Linked DNA regions of Homo sapiens: regions 1 and 3 are each linked to region 2. Evidence: fine-mapped expression QTL. A gene starts in region 2. Each other region holds a variant in brackets. All regions are shown on one strand. Distances are between the middles of the regions.

Region 1 (10,029 bases), 28 kb before region 2:
CCAACCTGGCTAAAAATATAACCTAAGTGTCACTAAATTCTAACAAAATACAAAAAAGCCTAACATTTGTTGAGCAGGTTGTGACAGAATATCAGTTAGCTAAGTGCTAGGTATGCAAACATCCCCAGTGCTAACTTACCCAGAGGAGGACTTGGAGGAAGGGGGAACAGAGGGTGTCAGAGAATTAACAGAGAAAGGCCAACTGCCTCTAAGGGAAAGTGCTGGAGCCAGGGCTCATGACCTAGTTGACAGGTCAGAATGGTGCAATTGCCATTTATGTCCACCTAGTGGCAGCAGTTCTAGCCAGAAGCACCTGTACCTCAATTGGTTCACAGGCCCACTGGCAGCCACCTGGAATGGAACCATTTGGAAGGTTGCATTTGGAAGCAGTGGTCCCTTTTGGGCAGGAACTGATCTAGGTTATCCCAACTCTAAACCCCAAGTCCATGTGATAGAATCTGCTAGAAACAGGGTGCTGAAGTTTCCAAACAAATGCACTTTATCATATTAGGTTCTAGTACATGTTTTATGCCAGGGATCTAAAACTCCAAGGAGTAGAGAAGTTAGCTAAAAGAGGTGAGACTAGTATTCAACTAAGGACCAGTGATAGCTGATACGAATAACAGTGGGTCGGTGGCAGGCCAGGGAGTGAGTTGGGTCTTATGTTCTGTGCCTTCTGAATATAAACCAGCCACTGAAAAGGGCAGTTTTGTTTTAGGATAGATTTGTACATGATCTAGAATTTCTGTGAAAGGAAAATAATTCACTCTATAGGCCAGCATTTCCTAAGAAGTAGTATGCATGCCACTCAGGGCAGCGCAGATAATTTTTGATGAAACGCCTTTTATTTTAATATTTCAGTATTTATTTTAAGATGTCTTTGAAGAACTATATTATACCACAAACCTATGATTTCACAGGTGATATTTTTGGTTTTCCATTTACGATAATGATATGAAATTTTCACTGTATTTGCTTATTTATTTATTTATTTATTTTTGAGAGAGGGTCTTATTCTGCTACCTAGGCTGGAGTACAGTAGTGTGATCATGGCTCACTGCAGCCTTGAACTCCTGGGCTCAAGCAATCTTCCCACCTTAGCCTCCCAAGTAGCTGGGAACACAGGTACACACCATCATGCTTGGCTAATTTAAAAAAAAATTTTTTTTGGTAGAGATGAGGTTTCTCTGTTGCCCCAGCTAAAGTTTAATTTAAAGTACTTTTAGTAAAAATGAGTTTATTTGAAAAAAAAAAAAAAACTAAGTAAATAATAGCATAAAAGCACGTCAATACAAGAACATGGTAAAAATCACAAAGGTAGAGTACAAACAATTGGAAAGTTTGAGAACTTCTTTGTTATCCTGGGGGATGAGGTGGATTGACTTGTAAACAAAGGAGTTTGGAATGTCAGATAGGCGAAGAAAAAAGTAGACTGTCAGAAGATCTGGATTCCAGTTCCAACTGCCACTCAGCCTGTGTGACACTGGCTTCTCTCTGGGTCTCCATTTCCTTATCTACATAATAACTCTTAATGCTCTGCTTAGCTTTATTATTTGGTGGTTCTATTTCACTTTTTATTAATGAGATTATAAACAATCATGATAACAGCCAGCACATACGGTCTGCTTTGTGGCAGGCACTGTGCAGGATGCTTTCCGTAAGTCATCATTCTTATTCTCACAACAGCCTTAAAAGGTAGATATTATTATTATTATTTTGAGACAAGGTCTCGCTCTGTCACCCAGGCTGGAGTGCAGTGGCACGATCTTGGCTCACTGCAATCTCCACCTCCTGAGTTCAACTGATTCTCCCACCTCAACCTCCCAAGTAGCTGGTACTACAGGCATGCACCACCATGCTCAGCTAATTTTTGTATTTTTGGTAGAGACAGGGTTTCACTATGTTGGTCAGGCTGGTCTTGAACTCTTGACCTCAGGTGATCGGCCCACCTCGGCCTCTCAAAGTGCTGGGATTACAGGCGTGAGCCACTGCACCTGGCCAAAAGGTAGGTATTATAATGCCTATTCTACATACGCAGAGAGTTGAGCCTGGAAGATTTTAAGTAACTTGCCCAAGGTCACACACAACTTGATTTGAATGAACTTGGATCTGATTCCAGAGCCTGTGTTTTTTCCCCTAAGCCTTGCTGTATCCTAGTAGTTGATTCCTATTCACCCTTCAAAACTAAGCTCAAGATCATCTCTTCCAGGAGGGCTTCTTTGACCTCCTCTCTCCATCCTGTTTAGACATCTCTCTCCTCAGTGTTCCCTTAATTTTCTAAGTATGTCTTTTGCTGTTGTTGTTGTTATATTTGCCTTTGCGTCCCCAACACCCTGCATAGAATAGGTAGTCAACAAATCATTATGGAAACAGAGGGAGTGTGAAGGAGGGGGAGAAAGGGGAGAAAGGAGAGGGAAAGAATTACAAAAGAAAATATATTGCTACCTTATTTTATTAAATACTAAGGAAGTAGAATTGAGAGATAGGAGAGGAAGGTGGTTAAGCATATGGCCTCTAGATTCAAGCCACCTACCTTTGCTACTTACTAGGAGAGTGTCTTAGAGCACAGATTTAAAGCCTGTGCTTCAGTTGCTTCTTCTATAAAATAGAGGTATCAATAGCACCTACCTTAAAGACTGTTGTAAAGACTAATGAGTTACTATACGTAAAGTGCTTAGAGCAGTGCTTGAGATGTGATAAGCAAGTACTTTAAATATTGGCTATTATTATTTCTGTGAAATAAATAAAAGTGAATGTAACACTATTATATACATATAATGCCTCTTCATTTCCCAACTGATTGACTGATGGCAGGGTCTTTCCAAGGCAGTATGAATAAAGACAATTATACCCATAGGATGAACAATGTAATAGCCTTGTCTTTCCAATCCCATGGTAGCAGCATTAAGCACCCCATCTCTATGCTCAGAACATTTAGAAATATTGATATTAAAATTATCACACTGGGCTGAGTGCAGTGGCTCACACCTGTAATCCCAACATTTTGGAAAACTGAGGCAAGAGGATGGCTTGAGGCCAGGAGTTTGAGACCAGCCTGGGCAACATAGTGAGATGCTATCTCTACAAAAAAATGTTTTAAAAATTAGCTGGGCATGGTGGCATGTGCCTGTAGTCCTAGCTGTTCAGGATGCTGGGGCGGGAGGATCGTTTGAGCCCAGAAGTTAGAGGCTGCAGTGAGCTATGATTGCACCACTGCACTTCAGCCTGTGTGATAGAGCAAGACCTTGTCTCTTAAATAAGTAAATAAAGAAAGAACATTATCACACTGTATTATATTCTAAATCCAGGTTTACTTGCTGTCTACCACCCTCAATTAGGCTGTGAGTTCCTTGAAGGAAAAGACTCTCATTTGATTTCTCTCTCTGTCTCCAATTCTTAGCAAAGGGGTTAGTAAGAAATAAATGCTTAATAAATGTTTGCTGAGTGAATATAATAGAAAAGATGTGTACACATAAGCAATAAAATAAAAAATATTAGAGGTCCATTCCAAGATGGCCTAATAAGAACAGCTCTGGTCTGCAGCTCCCAGTGTGATTGATGCAGAAGATGGGTGATTTCGGCATTTCCAACTGAGGTACCTGGTTCATCTCACTGGGACTGGTTGGACAGTGGGTGCAGCCCACGGAGGGCAAGCCAAAGCAGGGATGGGTGTCGCCTCACCTGGGAAGTGCAAGGGACTAGGGGATTTCCCTTTCCTAGCCAAGGGAAGCCGTGACAGACTGTACCTGAAAAACAGTACACTCCTGCTCAAATACTGCACTTTTCCAACAGTCTTAGCAAACAGCACATCAGGAGATTATATCCTGTGCCTGGCTCGGCAGGTCCCACACCCATGGGGCCTTGCTCACTGCTAGTGCAGCAGTCTGAGATCAACCTGCGAGGCAGCAGCCCGGCATGGGGAGGGGCATCCGCCATTGCTGAGGCTTGAGTAGGTAAATAAAGCATCCAGGAAGCTTGAACTGGGCGGAGCCCACCAGTTCACTGCTGCAAGGCTTGCTGCCTCTATAGACTCCACCTCTGGGGGCAGGGCATAGCTGAACAAAAGGCAGCAGAAACCTCTGTAGACTAAATGTCCCTGTCTGACAGCTCTGAAGAGAGCAGTGGTTCTCCCAGCATGGTGTTTGAGCTCTGAGAATGGACAGACTGCCCCCTCAAGTGGGTTCTTGACCCCTGTGTAGCCTAACTGGGAAAAACCTCCCAGTAGGGGCCGACTGACACCTCATACAGGCGGGTGCCCCTCTGGGACAAAGCTTCCAGAGGAAGGATCAGGCAGCAATATTTGCTGTTCTGCAATATTTGCTGTTCTTCAGCCTCCCTGCTGGTGATACCCAGGCAAATGGTCTGGAGTGGACCTCCAGCAAACTCCAACAGACCTGCAGCTGAGGGACCTGACTGTTAGAAGGAAAACTAACAAACATAAAGGAATAGCATCAACATCAACATAAAGGACATCCACACCAAAACCCCATCTGTAGGTCACCAACATCAAAGACCAAAGGTAGATAAAACCACAAAGATGGGAAGAAACCAGAGCAGAAAAGCTGAAAATTCTAAAAACCAGAGCATCTCTTCTCCTCCAAAGGATCGCAGCTCCTCGCCAGCAACAGAACAAAGCTGGACAGAGAATGACTTTGATGAGTTAACAGAAGTAGGCTTCAGAAGGTCGGTAATAACAAACTTCTCCGAGCTAAAGGAGGATGTTTGAACCCATCTCAAGGAAGCTAAAAACCTTGAAAAAAGATTAGACAAATGGCTAACTAGAATAAACAGTGTAGAGAAGACCTTAAATGACCTGATGGAACTGAAAACCATGGCATGAGAACTACGTGATGCATGCACAAGCTTCAATAGCCAATTTGATCAAGTGGAAGAAAGGGTATCAGTGATTGAAGATCAAATTAATGAAATAAATTGAGAAGTTTAGAGAAAAAAGAGTAAAAATAAATGAACAAAGCCTCCAAGAAATATGGGACTATGTGAAAAGACCAAATCTACGTTTGATCAGCATACCTGAAAGTGACGGGAAGAATGAAACCAAGTTGGAGAATACTCTTCAGGATATTATCCAGGAGGACTTCCCCAACCTAGCAAGGCAGGCCAACATTCAAATTCAGGAAATACAGAGAACACCACAAAGATACTCCCTGAGAAGAGCAACCCCAAGATACATAATTGTCAGATTCACCAAGGTTGAAATGAAGGAAAAAATGTAAGGGCAGCCAGAGAGAAAGGTCGGGTTATCCACAAAGGAAAGTCCATCAGACTAACAGCGGATCTCTCAGCAGAAACTCTACAAGCCAGAAGAGAGTGGGGGCCAATATTCAACATTCTTAAAGAAAAGAATTTTCAACCCAGAATTTCATATCCAGCCAAACTAAGCTTCATAAGTGAAGGAGAAATAAAATCTTTTACAGACAAGCAAATGCTGAGAGATTTTGTCACCACCAGTCCTACCTTACAAGAGCTCCTGAAGGAAGCACTAAACATGGAAAGGAACAACCAGTACCAGCCACTGCAAAAACATGCCAAATTGGAAAGACCATCAATGCTATGAAGAAACTGCATCAATTAACGGGCAAA[AT/T]AACCAGCTAACATCATAATGACAGGATCAAATTCACACATAACAATATTAACCTTAAATGTAAATGGGCTAAATGCCCCAATTAAAAGACACAGACTGGAAAATTGGATAAAGAGTCAAGACCCATCAGTGTGCTGTATTCAGGATACTCATCGCATGTGCAAAGACACACATAGTCTCAAATTAAAGGGATGGAGGAAGATCTACCAAGCAAATGCAAAAAAAAAAAAAAAAAAAAAAGCAGGGGTTGCAATCCTAGTCTCTGATAAAACAGACTTTAAACCAACAAAGATCAAAAGAGACAAAGAAGGCCACTACATAATGGTAAAGAGATCAATTCAACAAGAAGAGCTAACTATCCTAAATATATATGCATCCAATACAGGAGCACCCAGATTCGTAAAGCAAGTCCTTAGAGACCTACGAAGGGACTTAGACTCCCACACAATAATAATGGGAGACTTTAACACCCCACTGTCAATATTAAACAGATCAACAAGACAGAAGGTTAACAAGGATATCCAGGACTTGAACTCAGCTCTGCACCAAGCAGACCTAATAGACATCTACAGAACTCTCCACCCCAAATCAACAGAATATACATTCTTCTCAGCACCACATCACACTTATTCCAAAATTGACCACATATTTGGAAGTAAAGCACTCCTCAGCAAATGTAAAAGAACAGAAATCACAGCAAACTGTCTCTCAGACCACAGTGCAATCAAATTAGAACTCAGGATTAAGAAACTCACTCAAAACCGCACAACTACGTGGAAACTGAACAACTTGCTCCTGAACGACTATTGGGTAAATAATGAAATGAATGCAGAAATAAAGATGTTCTTTGAAACCAATGAGAACAAAGATACAACATACCAGAATCTCTGGGACACATTTAAAGCAGTGTGTAGAGGGAAATTTATAGCACTAAATGCCCGCAAGAGAAAGCAGGAAAGATCTAAAATGGACACCCTAACATCACAATTAAAAGAACTATAGAAGCAAGAGCAAACAAATTCAAAAGCTAGCAGAAGGCAAGAAATAACTAAGATTAGAGCAGAACTGAAGGAGATAGAGACACACACATACACAAAACCCTTCAAAAAATCAATGAATCCAGGAGCTGTTTTTTTTTAAAAGATCAACAAAATTGACACACCGCTAGCAAGACTAATAAAAGAAAAGAGAGAAGAATCAAATAGATGCAATAAAAAGTGATAAAGGGGATATCACCACTGATCCCACAGAAATACAAACTACCATCAGAGAATACTATAAACATCTCTACACAAATAAACTAGAAAATCTAGAAGAAATTGATGAATTCCTGGACACATACAGCCTCCCAAGACTAAACCAGGAAGAAGTGGAATCTCTGAATAGACCCATAATAGGCTCTGAAATTGAGGCAATAATTAATAGCCTACCAACCAAAAACAGTCCAGAACCAGATGGATTCACAGCCCAGTTATACCAGAGGTACAAATAGGAGCTGGTACCATTCCTTCTGAAACTATTCCAATCAATAGAAAAAGAGGGAATCCACCCTAACTCATTTTATGAGGTCAGCATCATCCTGATACCAAAGCCTTGCAGAGACACAACAAAAAAAGAGAATTTTAGACCAATATCCTTGATGAACATCGATGCAAAAATCCTCAATAAAATACTGGCAAACCAAATCCAGCAGCACATCAAAAAGTTTATCCGCCACGATCAAATCGGCTTCATCCCTGGGATGCAAGGCTGGTTCAACATATGCAAATCAATAAATGTAATCCATCACATAAACAGAACCAATGACAAAAACCACATGACTATCTGAATAGATGCAGAAAAGGCCTTTGACAAAATTCAACAGCCTTCACGCTAAAAACTCTCAATAAGATAGGTATTGATGGGACTTATTTCAAAATAATAAGAGCTATTTATGACAAACCCACAGCCAATATCATACTGAATGGGCAAAAACTGGAAGCATTCCCTTTGAAAACTGGCACAAGACAGGGATGCCCTCTCTCACCACTCCTATTCAACATAGTGTCAGAAGTTCTGGCTAGGGCAATCAGACAAGAGAAAGAAACAAAGGGTATTCAATTAGGAAAAGAGGAAGTCAAATTGTCCCTGTTTGCAGATGACGTAATTGTATATTTAGAAAACCCCATCATCTCAGCCCCAAATCTCCTTAAGCTGATAAGCAACTTCAGCAAAGTCTCAGGATACAAAATCAATGTGTAAAAATCACAAGCATTCCTATACACCAATAACAGACAAACGGAGAGCCAAATCATGAGTGAACTCCCATTCACAATTGCTACAAAGAGAACAAAATACTTAGGAATCCAACTTACAAGGGATGTGAAGGACCTCTTCAAGGAGAACTACAAACCACTGCTCAGCAAAATAAAAGAGGACGCAAACAAATGAAAGAACATTCCATGCTCATGGATAGGAAGAATCAATATTGTGAAAATGGCCATACTGCCCAAGGTAATTTATAGATTCAATGCCATCCCCATCAAGCTACCAATGACTTTCTTCACAGAATTGGAAAAAAACTACTTTAAAGTTCATATGGAACCAAAAAAGAGCCCGCATTGCCAAGACAATCCTAAGCAAAAAGAACAAAGCTGGAGATATCACGCTACCTGACTTCAAACTATACCACAAGGCTACAGTAGCCAAAACAGCATGGTACTGGTACCAAAACAGAGATATAGACCAATGGAACAGAACAGAGGCCTCAGAAATAACACCACACATCTACAACCATCTGATCTTTGACAAACCTGACAAAAACAAGAAATGGGGAAAGGATTCCCTATTTAATAAATGGTGTTGGAAAAACTGGATAGCCATATGTAGAAAGCTGAAACTGGATCCCTTCCTTACATCTTATACAAAAATTAATTCAAGATGGATTAAAGACTTAAATGTTAGATCTGAAACCATAGAAAACCTAGAAGAAAACCTAGGCAATACCATTCAGGAGATAGGCATGGGCAAGGACTTCATAACTAAAACACCAAAAGCAATGGCAACAAAAGCCAAAATAGACAAATGCAATCTAATCAAACTAAAGAGCTTCTGCACAGCACAACTACCATCAGAGTGAACAGGGAACCTACAGAATGGGAGAAAATTTTTGCAGTCTACCCATCTGACAAAGGGCTAATATCCAGAATCTACAAAGAACTTAAACAAATTTTCAAGAAAAAAACAAACAACCCCATCAAAAAGTGGGCAAAGGATATGAACAGACACTTCTCAAAAGAAGACATTTATGCAGCCAACAGACACATGAAAAAATGCTCATCATCACTGGTCATCAGAGAAATGCAAATCAAAACCACAGTGAGATACCATCTCACACCAGTTAGAATGGCGATCATTAAAAAGTCAGGAAACAACAGATGCTAGAGAGGATGTGGAGAAATAGGAATGCTTTTACACTGTTGGTGGGAATGTAAATTAGTTCGATTGTGGAAGACAGTGTGGTGATTCCTCAAGGATCTAGAACTAAAAATACCATTTGACCCAGTGATCCCATTACTGGGTATATACCCAAAGGATTATAAATCATGCAACTATAAAGAAACATGCACACATATGTTTATTGCAGTACTATTCACCATAGCAGAGACTTCGAACCAACTGAAATGTCCATCAATGATAGATTGGATTAAGAAAATGTGGCACATATATGCCATGGAATACTATGCAGCCATAAAAAAGGATGAGTTCACGTCCTTTGCAGGGAAGTGGATGAAGCTGGAAACCATCATTCTGAGCACACTATCACAAGGACAGAAAACCAGACACTGCATGTTCTCACTCATAGGTGGGAATTGAACAATGAGAACACTTGGACACAAGGAGGGGAACATCACACACTGGGGCCTGTCTGGGGGTGGGGGGCAGGGGGAGGGATAGCATTAGGAGAAATACCCAATGTAAATGACGAGTTAATGGGTGAAGCAAACCAACATATCACATGTATACCTATGTAACAAACCTGCACGTTGTGCACATGTACCCTAGAACTTAAAGTATTTATATATATATGTATATATATGTATGGTAAGATGTATATATATATATATATATGTATATATATGTATGGTAAGATGTATATATATATATATATATATATATATATAAAGATGTGCAAAAAAGTTATGTAACATTCACTACAAAAGAGGCTAAAATCAAGCATGGTTATAGCTCAGAAAGGAGAGACCACATCTAGGCAATTAAAGGGAATAGAACAGAATGGTTAAATCCCTAAACTTTACAGTCGGACAGCCTTAGTTTTGAGCCCTAATTCTGCCACTCATGAGTTTATGTGATCTAGGGATATAACCTCTTTAAACCATGGTTTTGTTATCAGTGAAATGGGGATACTATTAGTTGGAAAAATGAAA
Region 2 (10,029 bases):
CTGAAAAAATTACACAGGCATGAAGCCTTGAAAGACGGAAAGTATTTGCATAGATGAGGATAGCAGCATTACTGTATGTGACAAAGAGAAGGGTGAGTTCAAAACATGTTCAAGAGAACTGCAGGCAAACTATGGTTAATGTAGAGTCCATATGAAATAGTAGTAGGCTTGCATGCTGAAAAGCTCATATTACTAGAGCATAGAATATTTTGCTTACCTAACCAAGAAATATATCACTTGTTAAAAATGGGGAATGAAGTCAGATTTTTGAACAATGGAATGGCAATTTCACTATTTTAGGAATATGGTAAATATGGTGATAATGGTAAAGATTAACTGAAAACGACAAGAGACCGGGGCAGGAATAGAAGCTGTTCTGGATGGGAAGATGTCTGAAAATCTACCCTGGTATTTTTTGTTTTCACTTTTCCTTCTGTTATTACAGAGGACTAAGGATATTTTTGCAAATAAAGTTTCATTCAGCAAGAACACACTTGCACAAGCTTTCCATATAGACACTGTGCTAGGTACTAGCTATATCAAAGAACAAGACAGGGTCACAGTCCCTCAGGCATTCATGGTATAATGAACATGAGAGAGCAGTGGTTCTTTCAACCCTTCTGGTACATTAGACTCACCTGGGAAGGTTTCAAAAATACATATATGTCCAGACTTCTCCCCCAGGGATTCAGATTCCCCCATCTAGCTGATGTACAGGCATAGGTATATTTATTTTTTAATTGTTTTATGCTTCAAATAATAGTTTTTGGAGGAATAATTTTAGAATTACAGAAAAGTTGTCATGATAGTACAAAAGTTACTATATACCTTTCGCCCAGTTTACACCAATGTTAACGTCTTACATAACCATGGGCCATTTGTCAAAACTAAGAAATCAGGATAGTTACACTACCATTAACTACAGACATTATTCCGTTTTCATGAATTTTTCCACTAATGTGCTTTGTCTGCTTCAGGGTCCAATCCAGGATATAGAATTGCATTTAGGATGTTTTTATTTTAAAAGCTCTCCTGACAATCCTAAAGTGGAGGTAGGGTTGAGAACCAATAGTACAGTGGGATGTTACAATATTGTTTCCCTCCTATCTGCCTACCCCCTTTTGTGTGTACATTAAATTTTTTACCATCAGGATGTATTCATTGCACAATTATTCATACCCCTATTATATTTATTACACAACATACTGAGGGCAGGGCAGCACAACCACATAATAGTTTCGTCTCTTTTTTTTTTTTTTTTTTTTGAGACGGAGTCTCACTCTGTCGCCCAGGCTGGAGTGCAGTGGCACCATCTCGGCTCACTGCAAGCTCCGCCTCCTGGGTTCACGACATTCTCCTGCCTCAGCCTCCCGACTAGCTGGGACTACAGGCGCCCGCCACCACGCTTGGCTATTTTTTTTTTTTTTTTGTATTTTTAGTAGACGGGGTTTCACCATGTTAGCCAGGATGGTCTCAATCTCCTGACCTCGTGATCCTCCTCGGCCTCCCAAAGTGCTGGGATTACAGGAGTGAGCCACCGCGCCCGGCCACAACCATATAATAGTTTCTTACCTCTCAATGACACTTCAACATTTATACTTTCACATAAACTATTTTATTTGATCTGTACAAAAGTATGTGAAATAGGCCAGGCGGTGATTATCACTCTCACTTAAAGATGAGGGAATAACATAGAGGGAAGGTACTCACCCAAAGTCACATCTGACTTCCTCAGTGCTTTTTTTTCTTCTTTGGAATGTGCTTCTGTCTCAATTTCACCTGCCAGAGTGGGCCAAAATTAGAGGAAAAAAAAGAGTAAACTGAAGTCTCAAGTTCTAACAGCGTTGCATTAAGATGGACCTTAAGAGATTTGCATACGTACAGTGCACAGGAGCACAAAGATGAGATGGGGAAGGAGAGGGAAAGAGGAATGCAGTACATTAGAGGAAGCAGAATTTCTCTCTCCACCTCTCGGGACCCTTTCTGCTTGCCCTCTTACATCACTCCCTGCATTCACACACCACTTCTGCTTTCTCACCATTCTTGTTTAAACATCACTGTGCATCTAAAATTCTTCTGGCGTTCTTCTTGGCTTAGAACCTTTAGGTGACAGAATTAAAGTTTTGCAAGAATCCTTCTAGCTTGACTTTGTGCTGCCCTCCTCTCATGTTAGGTTAGAAACCCATGAACCATATGATATTATAGCCAAAATGATGTGTGGGACGGTTCAAAGCTTTAGTTGATTCTCAAAGGGGTCCTTCACCCAAATGAGAGGTTAAGAATCACTCTACTGAGAAGTGTTTCTCAAAGTAGTACAAGCTGAAGACTACATAATTATTTAGGTCATTTCTTTAAGGCAGATTTCTAGGTCTTACATCTGGAGGAGAGGTTAAGTCTTATAAACTGCAAATAATCACATATAATTCCAGACAAGATAATAAGAACTTCAAATCATAGACTAAAAAATGTGCTGCATATTTAAGTTCCCGTTTTCAGTCAAGAGAAATTTTACCTATAAAAGAAGTAGCAATCTATTTCCCTAGTATATTCAAATCAGCTTTGCATTTCAGTACTTGTCACACTTGGTAATTACATATTTTTTTGTGTGATTAACAACGTCTACCATGCCCTCCAGGAGGGCAAATATCTCTTTAAATCTAGTCTTTCCACAGATAAAGCGGGACTATCATTTTTAGCAACACCACCATCTAGTGGCAAGCGCAGTAATTCTGGCCCAGTTTTATAAACACACACATACACACACACGCGCGCGCGCTATATATATATAAAACAATGATTTTCAAACTTGTTTCTCCAGCTGCACAGAGCTGTCCCTCCTAAAAAAAATGGCAGCCTTTTCCAAGTTGTCCTGTAAAAATGACCTGCCAAAAGACACTATATGAATTTGATCAGTTTTATCTTATTTTTTAAACCACAATCTTTAATTATTTGGCTCCTCCTGCTGGTTATTTTCTACCAGAAATCAATGACAAATGGACAGACATGGAAACATCTTTTCATGGTTGTTAGACTTTTCAATCTGTGACTCATATGCTTTTGAATATTTTATACTGCAGATGTTAACAGATAAAAAGATAAAAGATTTTAAAATTTCTCCCAGAAAGAGAATTATATACAGAGAAACTTACTAAAGGTGAGAGACAGCATTACAAGTGGGTAAAAGATAGGCTATCATTGCAAGGACAACTGGTCATTGCATGGGATTAAATGATTCTTGTTAGCTCTTAGCTTCTCAGAGCTGTCCAGAAACGACAATAATCCCCACAATGCACATGGCATGTTGACTCTTATAATTCCATTCTCACTTCAGTTCCGGTAAGGTGTGGAGCACAAGAAACAGTTCCCACTCCTTAACCCCTAGCACATAGTAGGGCTCCTTTATAACATCCACCACACTTGAAATAAGACTTATTTGGGGTTGTTTCTGACAAAGCATAACTTATATTATGGAAAAATTTCCCACCACCCAGGGATAATTTTTTTTTTTTTTTTTTTTTTTTTTTTTTTTTTTTTTTTGATACGAGGTCTCGCTCTGTCACCCAGGCTGGAGTGCAGTGGCGCGATCACGGTTCACTGCAGCCTCAAACTCCTGGGCTCAAGCGATCCTCCCGCCTCAATCTCCTGGGTAGCTGGGACCACAGGTGCCTGAGAATTCTTAACATTTCTTAACGTCCAGTCCTTCCGCTCTGTGTTAATTACATATACACATCCCTTAAAAATTAGGGTCATACTGGACGTATAGGTTACTTAATAATGTTTCGAGAGAGACATAGTTGCGAGTTCTTCATGGAGGTGTGTTCCCTCTCAAAAAGCGCGGGAAGCCGGAGTCGCATTCTACCCTAGGAGGGCGGGCAACTGTAGCAGCTGTGTGTAAGATAAACGAGATTGGGGTCCCGGAGGGGCACACGCCCGGGATAGGGTTCGAAGCCCCATGGAGAACTCAAAGCTTCCCTCAACGCCACCCTGCGCGCGCACATTCTCCTGGGTTCGCGGGACCTCGCCGGCGAGGCCACTGCGCATGCGTCAGGCATGGAGAGCGGAAGCGGAAGGTTGAATGCGTCGGGTGGGCACCTCAGCAACCAGTAGCCATGCGCGGCTTGGAGGAGTCGGGGCCTCGGCCTACAGCGACCCCGTGCGGCTGCGTTAAGCCGGCTCTGGAGACAGGTAACTTCCAACACCGGCGGTGCCACACTCTGGAGAGGTTTAGGCCCAGGCAGCGGACTTCGTTGCCGAGAGGGGTGTAAAACGCACGATCTGGAACTGACGTGCGTCATTCTTTTACCTACGGCGAAGGCACGGGTCACGTGCTGCGGAGACCACGTGATGTGCTTTGGCGAGCGGGATGACGTCATCTGGCTTGTTCCGCTTTGTTATAAGACTTGTACTGTCTGCGTAGTCTTGGCTCAGTAGCTGGAGCAGCTACGTGCAGCGTAGGGGCTTTTCTCTTAGGGGTTTCCTTGCCATAGCGTATGGGAGATGGTGTTAGGCGGGTTAGGAATTAATAAATGCCATAGAGAGGCATCCTGCGCTGTAGGAATGAGGACAGAGAAGGGGGAAAGTTTCTGGGGGAGAAAATAGTTTTAAATTGGGCCTAGAAAGACAAGGCATGAATTTGTTTCTCTTTACTCACACGTTTTCATAGAGGAATATATTAGCTTTAGAAACTGGAAAGCAAATGGAAGAAAATTAAAATAACCTGCCAGAGAAAGCCATTGTCAATATCTTGGTGTCTACCTTCCACGCTTGTTTCTTTGCATACACACTTGGAAAGTGAGGTACTATACGACCTGTTTAGTAACGTTAAAATAATTTAAAAAAAAATCTTAACAGGGCAGTTAATGTTAATTATAACACTTTGGGCCGGGCGCAGCGGCTCATGCCTGTAATCCCAGCACTTTGGGAGGCCGAGGTGGGCGGATCACGAGGTCAGGAGATCGAGACCATCCTGGCTAACACGGTGAAACCTCGTCTCTACTAAAAAATACAAAAAAATCAGCCGGGCGTGGTGGTGGGCTCCTGTAGTCCCAGCTACTCGGGAGGCTGAGGCAGGAGAATGGCATGAACCCGGGAGGCGGGCTTGCAGTGAGCCGAGATCGCGCCACTGCACTCCGGCCTGGGCGACAGAGCGAGACTCCGTCTCAAAAAAAAAAAAAAAAAATTAACACTTTGTTTTGTTATTATTAATTTTTGTAGAGGCAAGCTCTCACCGTGTTGCCCAGGCTGGTCTCAAACTCCTGGGCTTAAGCAATCCACCTGCCTTAGCCTCCCAAAGTTTTGGGATTACAGGCATGAGCCACTGCAACCAGCCTAACGCTTTGTTTTAGATATGTGCTCTAATTTAACCAGCTTCCTGTTACTGAGCATTTAAGTTATTGCCAGTTTGCATTGTTCTAAAAGAAAGCTCTTGAAGCCGAAATGTTTGTGTACATTCTAAAGTTTGAACTTTGTTAAATTTCTTGGAAGTGCTATTACCTGGCCAAATGTGCTTATTTAAAAAAAATTGTTGCACACTGCCGATTACAGGTCTCATATTTTGACAGGAAGGAAAACGCAGAAGCCAGGGCTCAGAAGTCTACACAGTATAGGTTTGGGGAGCTAGAAGTCTAAAGTGTTGGATGGAACAGGGAGGTGGGAACCTTTGGATTCTGATTGTGAAGAAACTTGAGTACCAGGCTAAGAAATACAAAGTCTGTTAACAGTGGAGAATATGAAAAGTTTAAAGTTAAAGAGTTAGCATAACACAAGAAACTCTAGGAGTGTTGAGGATTCGTCTAGAGTATTTTGAGAAGGGGAAGAACTTGCAGTGGGGACAGAAAGCCTAAGAAGGGTAATTTAATAGTACAGGTGGAAATGAAAAGGACCTGAACTTATTTTCAGAGCAAGACGTGTAGACAATCCTGTACACAAAAAACCCCACATTGATTGCTTGCTGGCTTTTTACTTATTACACAGTTAATACAGTTGTAATGTTTAAATGAGGAAAAAGCCTGAGCAGGGACTTTAAAAAGCACTCCTTGCTGGGCACCTTCTATTTTATTGGATGCTTTCCTATTTTATTAGTACTTTTACAGCTTTCCAAAGTAGGTAGTATCCCTTGTTTTATAGATGAGAAAACGGATTCAGAGAGAGAAGCTAGTTTTTCCCATGGTCACACAGCTAGTGTAGTGGCCCTGTGTTGTTTTTATCCTTTCTCCATTCTGAAACCAGTCCTAATTCTCTCATGCTCCTTTGAGGAACCACTTCTCCCCATTTCCATGAGGTTCTTGTGCTGGTTTTTGTCATACCTGTGCTTATTTATCTCTATCCCTGCAAAGGCACCTAGCTAGAATTGTTGATTTACTTGTCTTTCTCTGTCAATGTACTGGAAACCCTTGAGGACGAGAACTGGTTCATATTTGTACCCCAAGTCCTTAGCACAGTGCTTACCAAAATGGTAGGTGTTTACTGTTCTTTTGGGTTTTTGTTGTTGTCGTTTTGAGATAGGCAAGAAGAAGAAGACCAGAATTCCCCTTGGCAAACGGTGTCAGGTCTCTGCTTCAAATAGCATTTATATTTCATAGCATTATCCCCAGGAGGGCACAGAGAATGTATAAATATGTCCCAGAAGAGTTCAGACGTACTAGGATATGGATATTTGGTATTTTGAGAGTGGTCCCAAACATTTTAGAGTAGCAGAGTTAGAAGAACTCTTTCAAAGTAGCTCTTGAGTATACTTCCAGTTCATTGCTAATCCAGTGTTGTCTTGCTTATGTTCTTAAGGAGATGCACAAAGAGGATAGAAGTAAATCTAATTAGAGGATAGAAGTAAATCTAATTGGCAGCCACTTATATTTATCATATCATATGTGTAATCTGTGAAAAACAGGCATAGACTGATTTAGTGAAGTGATAAATCAGCTATAATATAAATTCCTAGGCCCCAAATCAAAGAGTCAAGGGCAGAAGTCTTTGATTACTTTACTGCTGACAGGACATTTCCCATGATATTGAAGCATGGTGTGATAGTCTCCTCAACTATTAAATTCCACTGTAGTAAGAGTTCTTGGTTTGTATCTTTTCTCCAAACTTAACACAATGTCTGGCAATTGTAGACACTTGGAAAATAGTGTTTCTCTCTTTCTTTTCTTTTCTTTCCTTTCTTTCCCTTTCCTCCCTTTCCTTTCTTTTCTTTCCTTTTTCTTTTCTCTTTTCTTTTCTTTTCTTTCTTTCTTTTTTTTTTCTTCTCTTTGTGGAGCAGAGCTAACTCATGGGCAGTGTGCCCAGAGTATCAGCCAGAAAATGTTTCTTGAACAAATGAAAAGAAGACACAGGGATTTTGTGGCTGGGCTAGGGGTCTTTTTTGGCCATTTATCTTCCAGACATAAAGAAGATATGCCAGGTCGTTTGGCCTCAGTTTCTTCATTTTTAAGATGTCTACTATATCTGTTCCATAGAAGCATGGATGAGGATTAAAAAGAAAAAACAAAAAACTAAAAACAATGCCTGTAAACATACTTGAACAAAAATTAAAGTTGTCAAAAACATACAGAGTATGTATGGATCTTAGCCTCATAATATTGAGAGAGAAAAAGCAAGTCTGAGAAGACAACTTACAGTTTGGTGCCAGTTTTTATAGATCTTAAAGACAAAAATCAATGAAATACTGTTTAGGCATGCATGTACATGTAACAAAATCATTCTCTAAAAGGAAGTGAATGATAAAGATCAAATTCAGGCTTCTGTTTATCTCAGAGGGAAAAGAAGGGTGTGAGGTAAGAGAAAAACAACCTAAAAAGAACAAGTCGTTAGTAACGCTCTAGTTTTTGGGATGGGTGGTGTATACACGGGGTTTCATCATATTATGCCGTATAACTTACATGTATGTTGCATATGATATTTATATATATCAAATAAAGTAGCTTCTAGAAGTGAAGAGTAATGAAAGATACTGTGAGGGACAGCCCCAGACCTATAGTCTTACTGCTTATGCTGGTAGGGTAGATTTAAGGAAGCAGGAAATAAAGTCTGAAGTGTCTTTATATCATCTCTCAGAAATTGATAACGCTGTCATGAAATGTGAGAATAATAAAAAAGTTATCAATAAATTCAAAGTGGTAGCCATGGAAACCTTGGACTTTATATTGATAGTGTCTGGCCATTTTTTTTCTTTTGAAATATGTTATTACTTAAAAAAATTGTGATTTTTTTTTTTTTTTGAGATGGAGTCTCGCTCACCTAGGTTGGAGTGCAGTGGCGTGATCTTGGCTCACTGCAACCTCTGCCTCCCAGGGTCAAGTGCTTCTCCTGACTCAGTTTCCTGAGTAGCTGGGACTCCAGGCATGCACCACCATGCCTGGCTAATTATTTTTTTTTTTTGTACTTCTAGTAGAGATGGGGTTTCACCATGTTGGCCAGGCTGGTCTCGAACTCCTGACCTCAGGTGATCTGCCCACCTCAGCCTCCCAAAGTGTTGGGATTACAGGCGTGAGCCACCGCGCCTGGCCTAATTTGTGATTATTGAAAAAACTTCAAATATTATAGAAATTACGAAGTTAAATTTAAAGGTAATTAAAAAATCTCACCACCCAGATTAACCACTGTTAAAAAAATTGGTGAATATTGGCCAGGTGTGGTGGCTCACACCTGTAATACTAGCACTTTGAGAGGCCGAGATGGGCAGATTGCTGGAGGTCAGGAGTTTAAGACCAGCCTGGCCAACATGGTAAAACCCCTTCTCTACAAAAAAAAAAAAAAAAATTAGATGGGCATGTTGGTGCGTGCCTATAATCCCAGCTACTTGGGAGACTGAGGCACGAGAGTCGCTTGAGCCTGGGAGGTGGAGATTGCAGTGAGCCGAGATTGTGCCACTGCACTCCAGTCTGGGCAACAGAGCAAGACTCTGTCTCAAAAAAACAAACACAAACAAAAAATAAAACACAGCATGTGGTGCATATCCTTCCAGATAGCTTTCCAAACATACCTGTATGTGTTTAAGAAGGTAAATATGTAACAAATTTCCATAAGTGGGATTATATTATATATATTATTATTTTACTTTTTCAATTTCCACATTAATCAGTTTAGACATATATGATCTTTTCTTCTATGCAACATGAATTTTTTGAGTACCTACTCCGTTGCAGGCAATGTACTAGACAATGAGAATGCAGCGATAAATGAGACAGAAAAACTGCCCACATGGAGCTTACATTCTAGAGGGGCAGTAGGCTACTGGACCAAGCCTAACTTGAAATTTACCTTGCCTCTAGATATTTTAGCACTATGAGCTTATAAGCTCTCTTTATTGCTTAAATTAGTTTATTTCATATGTTCTGTTGCTTTCAATTGAAGATATCCTTACTTATGTATACCCAGTGTTTCCTCATCTTTCATTATTCTCTGCCTCTTATTTCATACTCCAGCCAATCAAAATAGCTTGTTCCCTGCATATGCTATGACATTTCTCATTTACTTTTGTGTACACTCTCTCCTCTATTAGAAATACCCTCATAGGCCAAGCACTATGGCTCACGCCTATAATCCCAGCACTTTGGGAGGTTGAGGTGGGTGGATCAAGAGTTCAAGACCAGCCTGACCAATATGGTGAAACCCCGTCTCTACTAAAAATCCCAGCACTTTGGGAGGTCAAGGTGGGCGGGTCAGGAGTTCAAGACCAACCTGACCAATATGGTGAAACCCCATCTCTACTAAAAATACAAAAAAAAAAAAAAAAGTTGAGCGTGGTGGTGGGCGCCTGTAATCCCAGCTACTGGGGAGGCTGAGGCAGGAGAAATGCTTGAACCCGGGAAGCAGAAGTTGCAGTGAGCCGAGATCGGGCCACTGCACTCCAGCCTGGGCAACACAGCGAGACTCCATCTCAAAAAAAAAAAAAAAAAAGAAAGAAATACGCTCATAGCCCTGGCCAGAGTCACATGACTTAGTATTGGTAGCATAGAATTTTAATTATGGTCATAGTAGGTATTCTGAAAATGCCCCCTTACTTTCATTCTTTCTTTCTTGGACCATTAT
Region 3 (10,029 bases), 110 kb before region 2:
CTTCCCACCCTCAGACCTCATCTTGACAGTTTATCCCTGTCACTGGCCTCATCCCTAGTTTGGCTGGTCCTGCCCCTCCCCGTACCCAGTTAGGACAGTTGGTCTGACGTGTCTCCACCTTCTCATCTCACCCTTAACTTCAAAGGGTCCCCAAAGCTTTCACAACTCTCACGCTTCTCCCTCACTGTCATTGGGAATCTCCTCCATTCTAGGGCTTCAAAATTTCCCCAGGTGCAGTGGCAGGAGGATCACCTGAGGTCAGGAGTTCGAGACCAGCCTGGCCAACATGGTGAAACCCCGTCTCTACTAAAAATACAAAAATTAGCTGGGTGTGGTGGTGGGCGCCTGTAGTCTCAGCTACTTGGGAGGCTGAGGCAGGAGAATCGCTTGAACCTGGGCGGTGGATATTGCAGTGAGCCAAGATCGTGCCATTGCACTCCAGCTTGGGCAACAGAGTAAGACCCTGTCTCGAAAAAAAACAAAAACAAAACAAAAAAAATCCGTATCTTCATGGGAGACCTTTCTCACCACACTGCTTCCTCATGGTCATCTCTGAAAACAACCCCAGGAACCAGAGCGCCCCATAGTAACTTGGGCTCCGCCGTGTGATACTGTCCCCGGAAGCTGACCAACCTGATGCAGACATGTGATAGAAGATCATCTCTGGGTCAATAAGCACATGAAAAGATGCTCAACATAGTTAACTATCAGGAAATGCAAACCAAACCCATGGTGAGATACCACTTCGCACTTGCTAGGATATTTAAAATTGGAAAGATAAATAATAACAAGGATGTGGATTTTTTTTTTTTTTTTTGAGACAGGGTCTCACTCTGTCACCCAAGCTGGAATGCAGTGGCACCTGCAGCCTTGAACTCCCAGGCTCAGTGATCCTCCCACCTCAGCCTCCTGAGTAGCTGGGGACCACAAATGTGTGCCACCCTGCCCAGATAATGTTTTTTGGTAGAGATGGGGTTTTGCCATGTTACCCAGGCTAGTCTCAAACTCCTGGGCTCAAGTCATCCTCCCACCTCAGCTTCCCAAAGTGCTGGGATTATAGGCATGAGACATTGTGCCCAGCCTTGATGTTTGGCTATCCTTCCAAAGCTCTATCAACCAGGTTCTCTTCTCTCACGATTCTCTCTGCTAATGATGACTCTGTAGCCCGGAAATCATGAGGAATGGCAAGTCCATAAACTTCTGCCAACTGAGTTGCCCAGAGCTGCCCAGTTTCAACTCTTTTGAGACCCTTCCTTGGATTTTCTGAATCACCCCATAACACCCCAATAAACCCATCATTTTGATTTGTATAGCCACACCCACTTCCCTCCAGCCCCACCCCCTCCCTAACCTCTGCCAACCACTAATATTTTCCATTTCTATAATTGTGTCATTTTAAGAGGGTTTTTAATAAACAGAACCATGCAGTTCTGTAACCTTTGGGGGCTGGCTTTTTTCCCTCAGCATGATTCCCTGGAGATTCATCCTGGTTGTTTTGTGTATGGGTAGTGTGTTCCTTTTTATTTATTTTTTATTTTATTTTAATTTTTTTGAGATGGAGTCTCACTCTGTTGCCTAGGCTGGCATGCAGTGGTGTGATCTCAATCACCACAACTTCTGTCTCCTGGGTTCAAGCGATTCTCCCGCCTCAGCCTCCTGAGTAGCTGAGATTACAGGCATGCACCACCATGCCCGGCTAATTTTTGTATTTTTAGTAGAGATGGGTTTCACCACGTTGGTCAGGCTGGTCTCGAACTCCTGACCTTAAGTGATCCACCCGCCTCAGCCTCCCAAAGTGCTGGGATTACAGGCGTGAGCCACTGTGCCTGGCACATGTTTCATTTTTATAAGAAACTGCCAAACTGTTTTCCAGAGTGGCTGTATGATTTTACATTCTCACCAGACATATATAATTGATCAGTTTCTCTGCATTCTCACTAGCATTTGGTGTTGTCCTTATTTTTCATTTTTTCCATTCTGAGAGGAGTGCAGTGATATCTCATTGTGATTTTAATTTGCATTTCCCAAATGGCTAATAATAATGTTGAACATCTTTTCATGTGCTTATTTGCCTTCTGTATATCCTCTTCAGTGAAATCTCTTCATGTCTTTTGCCCATTTTCTAATTCTATTCTTGTTTTTTTGCTGTTGAGTTTTGAGAGTGCTTCATATTTCTAGTTACTAGTCCTTTTGTCAGGTATGTGGTTTGCAAATATTTTCTCCCAGTCTGTAGCTGTAGCTTGTCTTTTTATCCTCTTTACAAGGTCTTTTGCAGAGCAAAAGCTTTTAATTTTGACAAAGTCCAATATATAAATGTTTCCTTTTATGAATCATGTTTTGGGGGCTAAGTTTAAGAGCTCTTTGTCTCACTCTAGATCCCAAATGTTTTCTCCTGTGCTTCTTTTTTTTTTCTAAATTTTTTATAGAATTGTTTTTAAAATATGAAATGCTTCACAAATTTTTATATCATCCTTACATGGGGCCATGCTAATCTACTCTGTATCATTCCAGTTTTGGTTTATGTGTTGCCAAAGTGAGCAGAAAGTCTTATGGTCTTATGTTTACATTTTAGTCTGAGGTCTTTTTTTTTTTTTGAGACAGGATTTTGCTCTGTCACCCAGGCTGGAATGCAGTGATGCAGTCATAGCTTGCTGCAGCCTCCATCACCCAAGCTCAAGCGATCCTTCCACCACAACCTCTGTAGTAGCTGGGACTGCAAGTGTGCCCCACAATGCTCAACAAATTTTTGTGTTTTTTGTAGAGACAAGGTCTTGCCATGTTGGTCTCAAACTTCTGGCCTCAAGTGATCCTCCCTCCTTGGCCTCCTAAAGTGTTAGGATGACAGGCGTGAGCCACCACGTCTGGCACTGAGGTCCATTTTAAGTTAATTTTTGTACAATATATGAGACTTATGTCAAAGTTTTGTTGTTTGGTTGATTTTGGGGCCTATAGATGTCCAGTTGCTTCAGCACCATTTGTTGAAAAGACTTGTCTCCATTGATTGCTTTTGCACCTTTGTCAAAAATCAGCAGTCAAAAATAGTTGTGTGGCTCTGTTTCCGAGTTCTGTGTTCTGTTCCATTGATCTGTGTGCTATTCCTGGGCCAGAACCACACTGTGACCATATAACAGGTTTTGAACTTAGGTAGACTGATTTTTCTCTAAAATTAGCTAAATTTTAATAAACCATCTAAAATTATTCTAGCTATTCTAGTTCCTTTGCCTTTCCACATAAATTTTAGAAAAGTTTTGTCAATATTTGCAAGAAATAGATTTTGTTGGAATTTTGATAGAAAGTGTGCCAATATGGGAATAATTGACAACTTTATTATGTTTAGTCTTCCAACCCATGAACACAGTTTTACCTCTCAGTTTATTTAGATATTCTTTGATTTCCTTCATCAGCATTTTATAGTTTTCAGCATAGAAATCCTATACATGTTTTGTTAGATTTCCACCCAAATATTCCATGTTTTGAGTGATTATAAATGGTATTTTATTTTTAATTTTGGTTTCCATATGTTCATTAGTATATAGATTCTAGGAATTTTGTATGTGTGTATGTGTGTGTGTATGTGTGTGTGTGTGTGTGTGTGTGTGTGTGTGTGTAGATTCTTTGGGACTTTCTACCACATCGTATCATCTGCAAATACAGACCATTTTATTTTTGCCTTTCTGAAATGTGTGCCTTTTCTTTTCTTTTCTTTCTTGCCTGTTACACTGCCTAGAATGTTCAGTTGTATGTTGAATAAGAGTGGTGAGAGTGGACATCCTTGCCTTGTTCCCAATCTTAGAAAGAAAGCATTCCATTTTTCACCATTAAGTATAGTATTAAATGCAGGGTTTTGTAGATGTTCTTAATCAAATTCAGGAAGTTCCCTCTATTCCTAGTTTTCTGAGGGTTTTTGAGACGCTGAGATTTGTTTCTAATGGAGCTACAAGCTGTAGAGAACTTTATGAAATTGAATACATCCTAGTACAGCCACTTTATATCCAGACTGTTAAGAGTTTTGTGTTAGAGAAACCATCAACCTTATATGAGAAGATTATTCGTGTGTGTTAGAATTTGCATCTTAGAGAAAACCCTCATTTTAGAATTGGGTTGAGAAGAAGAACAAGACATTGGGTTTATTAATTGCAACTTTTGGCACAACGGTTAGAGCATTTATTTGCATCAAGGTTACATTACTGGGAAATTCATCTTACAGTAAAAAAGGTGAATAAAATATTTTTTCATAAGAATTAATGTAGAAGGGGTGGATATATTTCCAGACACCCACAGTCCAAACTTTCTATCTATTGACACAATTCACAAACCAATGGAATGACACAGAATGAATTAAGTGAGAAATAAAAGATCATATGATCATTTTACAGTGTTCTCCCTGGGATTCACGGAAGCATTAGGAAGCTACACTAGGTGCAGGTGCTACCAAAGTTAGCAGTCATTATAGTGTATCCCTGAGAGTCTGAGTCCAGTGAGGTTTGGGGTGGAATGGAAGAACCACCTGCCTCTGCCCCATCTCTACATCCCCTGCTGAGACTTAGAAACAAATACTGCACTCTGAGAATGCTCCAAAAACCTCCACCTTTCTTCTTTTTCCTTTTTTTTTTTTTTTTTTTTTTTTTTTTGTTTGGAGATGGAGTCTCACTCTCTCGATCAGGCTGGAGTGCAGTGGCACAATCTTGGCTCACTGCAGCCTCCACCTCCTGGTTCAAGAGATTCTCATGCCTCAACCTCCCACATAGCTGGGACTACAGGTGCGCACCACCATGCCTAGATAATTTTTGTATTTTTAGTAGAGACAGGGTTTCACCATGTTGGCCAGGCTGGTCCTGAACTCCTGGCCTCAAGTGATCTGCCCGCCTCAGCCTCCAAAAATGCTGGGGTTACAGGCATGAGCCACCATACCCGGCCAAACCTCCAGCTTTCTCAGGAGCTCTTGAGATGGTAAAGAAGGAA[T/G]GAAGTGGAGATCCTCCCCACTGTGAACTGCAGCATTCAGCAATCCCAAGATAACATGCCTCAACTGTCCTCCAGCCGCAGCTGCTCCCAGTTTACCAACAAGGTGAGTGCAAACAATGACTTATACAGAAATTGATCCCATTTTTTATTTTTTATTTTTTTTAAGAGACAGGGTCTCACTCTGTTGCCCAGTGTACTCCAGGCTGGAGTACAGAGGTGTGATCACAGTTCACTGTAACCTTGATCTCCTGGGTTCAAGGGATCCTTCTGCCTCAGCCACCCAAGAAACTGGACTACAGGTACATGCTACCATGCCCAGCTAATTTTTAAATTTTTTTTGTAGAGATGGGGATCTTACTTTGTGGCCCAGGCTGTTCTCAAACTCCTGGCCTCAAAAAATCCTCCGGCCTTGGCCTCTCAAAGTGCTGGAATTACAGATGTGAGCCACTATGCCCAGCCCTTTTAAAATTGTTTATTTTTATTTTTAGAGATGGGATCTTGCCACATTGCCTAGGCTGGAGTGCAGTGGCTATTCACAGGTGTGATTATAGCACACTGCAGCCTCCAATTCCTGGCCTCAAGCCATCCTCCCACCTCAGCCTCTTGAGTAGCTAAGATTACAGGTGCGCACTATCGCACTTGACCTGATCCATTTAAATAACTGACATTAAGTGGAAAAGGCTTAGTGTATGGAACTCAGATCTGCTGTGTCCCAACCCAGTGCTTGGAACACAGTGGGTATTTAGGGACCTTGAATGAAATAATGAGAATTTTATTAGCCATTCTCAATCAGAAATATGTAGTTCATTTGTAAATTGTGCACCCCCTCGCCATAAAATAAAATGTGGGATGGGATCAAGAATTTAAATCTTTGAAAGGCACTTCAGCCCTCATTTTGTCCAACCTGTATATGGAGCTAGGATCTCTTTCTGCAGTATTCACAAGTACCAACAGTCCCATCTTTGTCTGCAAAGACCTTTCCACTGATTCACAGGTCTGTTCTTTTGTTCCTTATTTTTTCTTTATATCAAACTTAAATTCTCTATCCTCCAATTCTCAAACCCCAATCTTAGTTATGCATCATGAGGCTTTTGGAGAAAACCTGCCTAATGGTCTATCTCCCTTCCTGTGTATTCAACCTCCCCTTTTCAGCTGGCATTTTGCATGAGCATTGAATCATGGTCAGGTCTTGCAGCTTGCTGGGGAAGCTCCTTACACCCCTTGTCCTTTCTTCACCTCTCACCTTCTCTCTCCTCTTCACAACCAATCCTCTTGAAGGACACTTATTATCTCCACTTATCCCTCCCACTGCCCAGCTCTCCTTAGTCTGGCCTCAACCCCAACCCGAACCCTTGAATTGCTCTATGACAGATTAGCAATGATGCACCTCAGACCTTATCTTACTGGTGGACTTGGAAGCATGGATGCATGTGACACCCTAGGCTTCTGAGGACCCTGTCTTCAGGGTCATCTGAACTGGCTTTAGGGGCTGGGCACGGTGGCTCATGCCTGTAATCCCAGCACTGTGGGATGCCAAGGTGGGCGGATCACCTGAGGTTAGGAGTTCAGGACCAGCCTGACCAACATTGTGAAACCCCGTCTCTACTAAAAATACAAAAATTAGCCAGGCATGGTGGTGGGCACCTGTAATCCCAGCTACTCAGGAGGCTGAGGCAGGAGAATCTCTTGAACCCGGGAGGCAGAGATTGCAGTGAGCTGAGATAGCACCATTGCACTCCAGCCTGGGCAACAAGAGCAAAACTCCATCTCAAAAAACAAACAGGCCGGGCGCAGTGGCTCACGCCTGTAATCCCAGCACTTTGGGAGGCCGAGGTGGGCAGATTACGAGATCAGAAGATCGAGACCATCCTGGCTAACACGGTGAAACCCCGTCTCTACTAAAAATACAAAAATTAGCTGGGCTTGGTGGTGGGCACCTGTAGTCCCAGCTACTCGGGAGGCTGAGGCAGGAGAATGGCGTGAACCCGGGAGGCGGAGCTTGCAGTGAGCTGAGATTGCGTCTCTGCACTCCAGCCTGGATGACAGAGTGAGACTCTGTCTCAAAAACAAACAAACAGACAAACAAAATTAGCTGGGCGTGATGGCAGGTGCCTATAATCCCAGCTACTTGGGAGGCTGAGGCAGGAGAATTGCTTGAACCCAGGAGGCGGAGGTTGCAGTGAGCCGAGATCACGCCATTGCACTCCAGCCTGGGCAACAAAAGCAAAACTCTGTCTCAAAAACAAACAAAAAACTGGCTTTAGGGACATCACTCTCCTGGTTTCTTCCAACTGCTCTGGCTCCTTCGTGTCTTGTTGCCTGGCTGGTTCCTCTTCTTCTGTCCTCCCTTAAAAAACAAACAACAGGCTGGGTACGGTGGCTCACACTTGTAATCCCAGCACTTTGGGAGGCCAAAGGGGGCAGATCACCTGAAGTCAGGGGTTTGAGACCAGCCTGACCAACATGGTGAAATATCGTTTCTACTGAAAATACAAAAATTAACCAGGCGTGGTGGCACATGCCTGTAGTCCCAGCTACTCGGGAGGCTGAGGCAGGACAACTGCTTGAAACTGGGAGGCAGAGGTTGCAGTGAGCCGAGATTGCACCACTGCACTCCAGCCTGGCTGACAAAGCAAGACTGTCTCAGCCGGGCACGGTGGCTCATGCCTGTAATCCCAGCACTTTGGGAGGCCGAGGTGGGCGGATCACGAGGTCAGGAGATCGAGACCATCCTGGCTAACACGGTGAAACCCCGTCTCTACTAAAAATACAAAAAATTAGCCGGGTGAGGTGGCGGGCGCCTGTAGTCCCAGCTACTCGGGAGGCTGAGGCAGGAAATGGCGTGAACTCCAGGGGGCGGAGCCTGCAGTGAGTGGAGATCGCGCCACTGCACTCCAGCCTGGGCGACGGAGAGACTCTGTCTCAAAAAAAAAAAAAAAAAAAAAAAAAAAGACTGTCTCAAACAACAACAACAAATCGTACCTTAGCGATCTGTTCTGGGCCTTCTTTTCTTCTCATTTTACACACTTTTTTCCTAGATGACCTGTCTATACCCATAATTTCAGTTGCCAACTGTTGTGCCAATGAATCCTGAAACCATAATTCCAGGACTTGCACAGAGGAGGATTCACTATCTGTTGAATAACAAAGTGGATGAGTCTGGGTACGGTGGCTCACGCCTTTAATCGCAACACTTTGGGAGGCAGAGGTGGGAGGTTCGCTTGATCCCAGGAGTTCCAGACAAGCCTGTATGACACAGTGAGACCCCGGTCTCTACAAAAAATACAAAAATGAGCTGGGCATGGTAGCTCATGCTTGTGGTCTCAGCTGCTTGGGAGGCTGAGATGGGAGACTCACCTAACCCTGGAGGTAAAGGCTGCTTGTGAGCCAGATGCCACTGCACTGCAGCCTGGACGACATGGTGAGACCCTGTCAAAAAAAAAAAAAAAAAGATGAAACCTGTAACTTCAGTCAAAGCCTAGATGCTGAGACTCATTCTTTTCTCTTGTCCTGTTCCCAGCCTGCTCCTCTCCCTCCTCCATTTCCTGTCCTAGGTGCCAGATCTGAGTGCCTGCCTTGCATTTCCTCTCTCCCTAACCCCAGACCCTATTAACCTCTTGCCAGCCTGTCCACTTCTCTAGCTCAGGCCCTCTTCATTCCTCATTGTGACTGCTGCCTCTAGAATAGATTGCTGCCTATTCTAAATGGTCTTCCTGCCTCTAATCCTGCTCCTTCCCCAATTTCTTTCTTTCTTTCTTTTTTTTTTTTTTTTTGAGACAGAGTCTACCTCTGTTGCCCAGGCTGGAGTGCAATGGCACGATCTCGGCTCATTGCAACCTCTGTCTCCCGGGTTCAAATGATTCTCCTGCCTCAGCCTCACAAGTAGCTGGGATTAAAGTTGCCCACCACCATGCCTGGCTATTTCGTGTGTGTGTGTGTGTATTTTTAGTACAGACAAGGTTTCACCATGTTGGCCAGGCTGGTCTTGAACTCCTGACCTCAAGTGATCTGCCTGCCTCAGCCTCCCAAAGTGCTGGGATTGCAGGTATGAGCCAGCACACCCAGCCTCCACGTGCAATTTCAAAAAGAAATTTTGGTCCCACCACTTGCTTGTTTAAGGTTGTTCAAAGACCCCAAGAGAGCTTTTTTTTTTTTTTTTTTTGAGACGGAGTCTAGCTCTATCGCCCAGGCTGGAATGCAGTGGAGCGATCTTGGCTCACTGCAACCTACACCTCCCAGGTTCAAGCAATTCTCCTGCCTCAGCCTCCCAAGTAGCTGGGATTACAGCCGCCCACCACCACGCCCAGCTAATTTTTGCATTTTTAGTAGAGATGGGGTTTCACCATATTGGCCAGGATGGTCTCGAACTCCTGACCTCGTGATCCACCCATCTCAGCTTCCCAAAGTGCTGGGATTACAAGCATGAGCCACTGCGCCTGGCCCCGAGAGCTCTTTCTGGCCTGCCCCACTCCTACCTCCCCAACCTCATCTCTCATGAGCATCCTCTTCACTCTTCATTCCTCCCATGCTGAGTTTCTCTCAGCTGTCTGGCCCCCAGCCCTTTGCACAGGATGGTCCTGCTCTCTGAATGCTCTTCTTTTCACATGTTGCCTGGCTCCCTCCTACTCACTCCTCAGGTCATTTCCTCGGGAGCTCTGTCCCTGCCCTGCCCTTCCTCAGTTCGTGTACTACCCGATGCTACGGAACTTACACACTGCATTGCAATTACACATTTACATAAGTGTTTTGCTCAGTAGCCTGTAGGTTCTGTGTGGGTAGGACTAGAGATTATTTCTATCCTGTTCATCTTTTTGTATTCTCATATATAAATATAACTCATCACCTCCTGACATTTGAGCCCTTCTGCTGATCCAAGTAAACAGTACTTAACACAGAGCTGTGTACACAGTAGATGCTCAGTGTGTTGAGTGGAAGAATCAATGACTCTTCCCCAAGGAGAATGGCATCATTTCTAACATGGATGGCTGGGCTGTCCCATGTGATTTGAGCAGTTTTAGATTTACACCAGGAGGGAGTCCGCCATTACCTCTGGGTACTTATTGTCCT

Evidence for each region.
Region 1: its variant is fine-mapped to the expression of TRMO in whole blood (TOPMed, PIP 0.92).
Region 3: its variant is fine-mapped to the expression of TRMO in whole blood (TOPMed, PIP 0.98).

The regions. Positions count from the first base shown.
Region 1 is chr9:97,944,991-97,955,019 of GRCh38, reverse strand. No RefSeq gene overlaps it. Among named protein-coding and RNA genes, the nearest start is that of HEMGN, 12 kb to the right of the region's middle. The variant AT/T (reference allele first, on the strand shown) is at 5,602.
Region 2 is chr9:97,916,574-97,926,602 of GRCh38, reverse strand. TRMO (tRNA methyltransferase O) reads left to right here and starts at 4,103. Exons shown (of 5, transcript NM_016481.5): 1 at 4,103-4,185. The coding sequence starts at 4,110. RefSeq lists an enhancer at 4,051-4,500.
Region 3 is chr9:98,024,742-98,034,770 of GRCh38, reverse strand. It overlaps the pseudogene RNU6-918P. Among named protein-coding and RNA genes, the nearest start is that of NANS, 27 kb to the left of the region's middle. The variant T/G (reference allele first, on the strand shown) is at 4,963.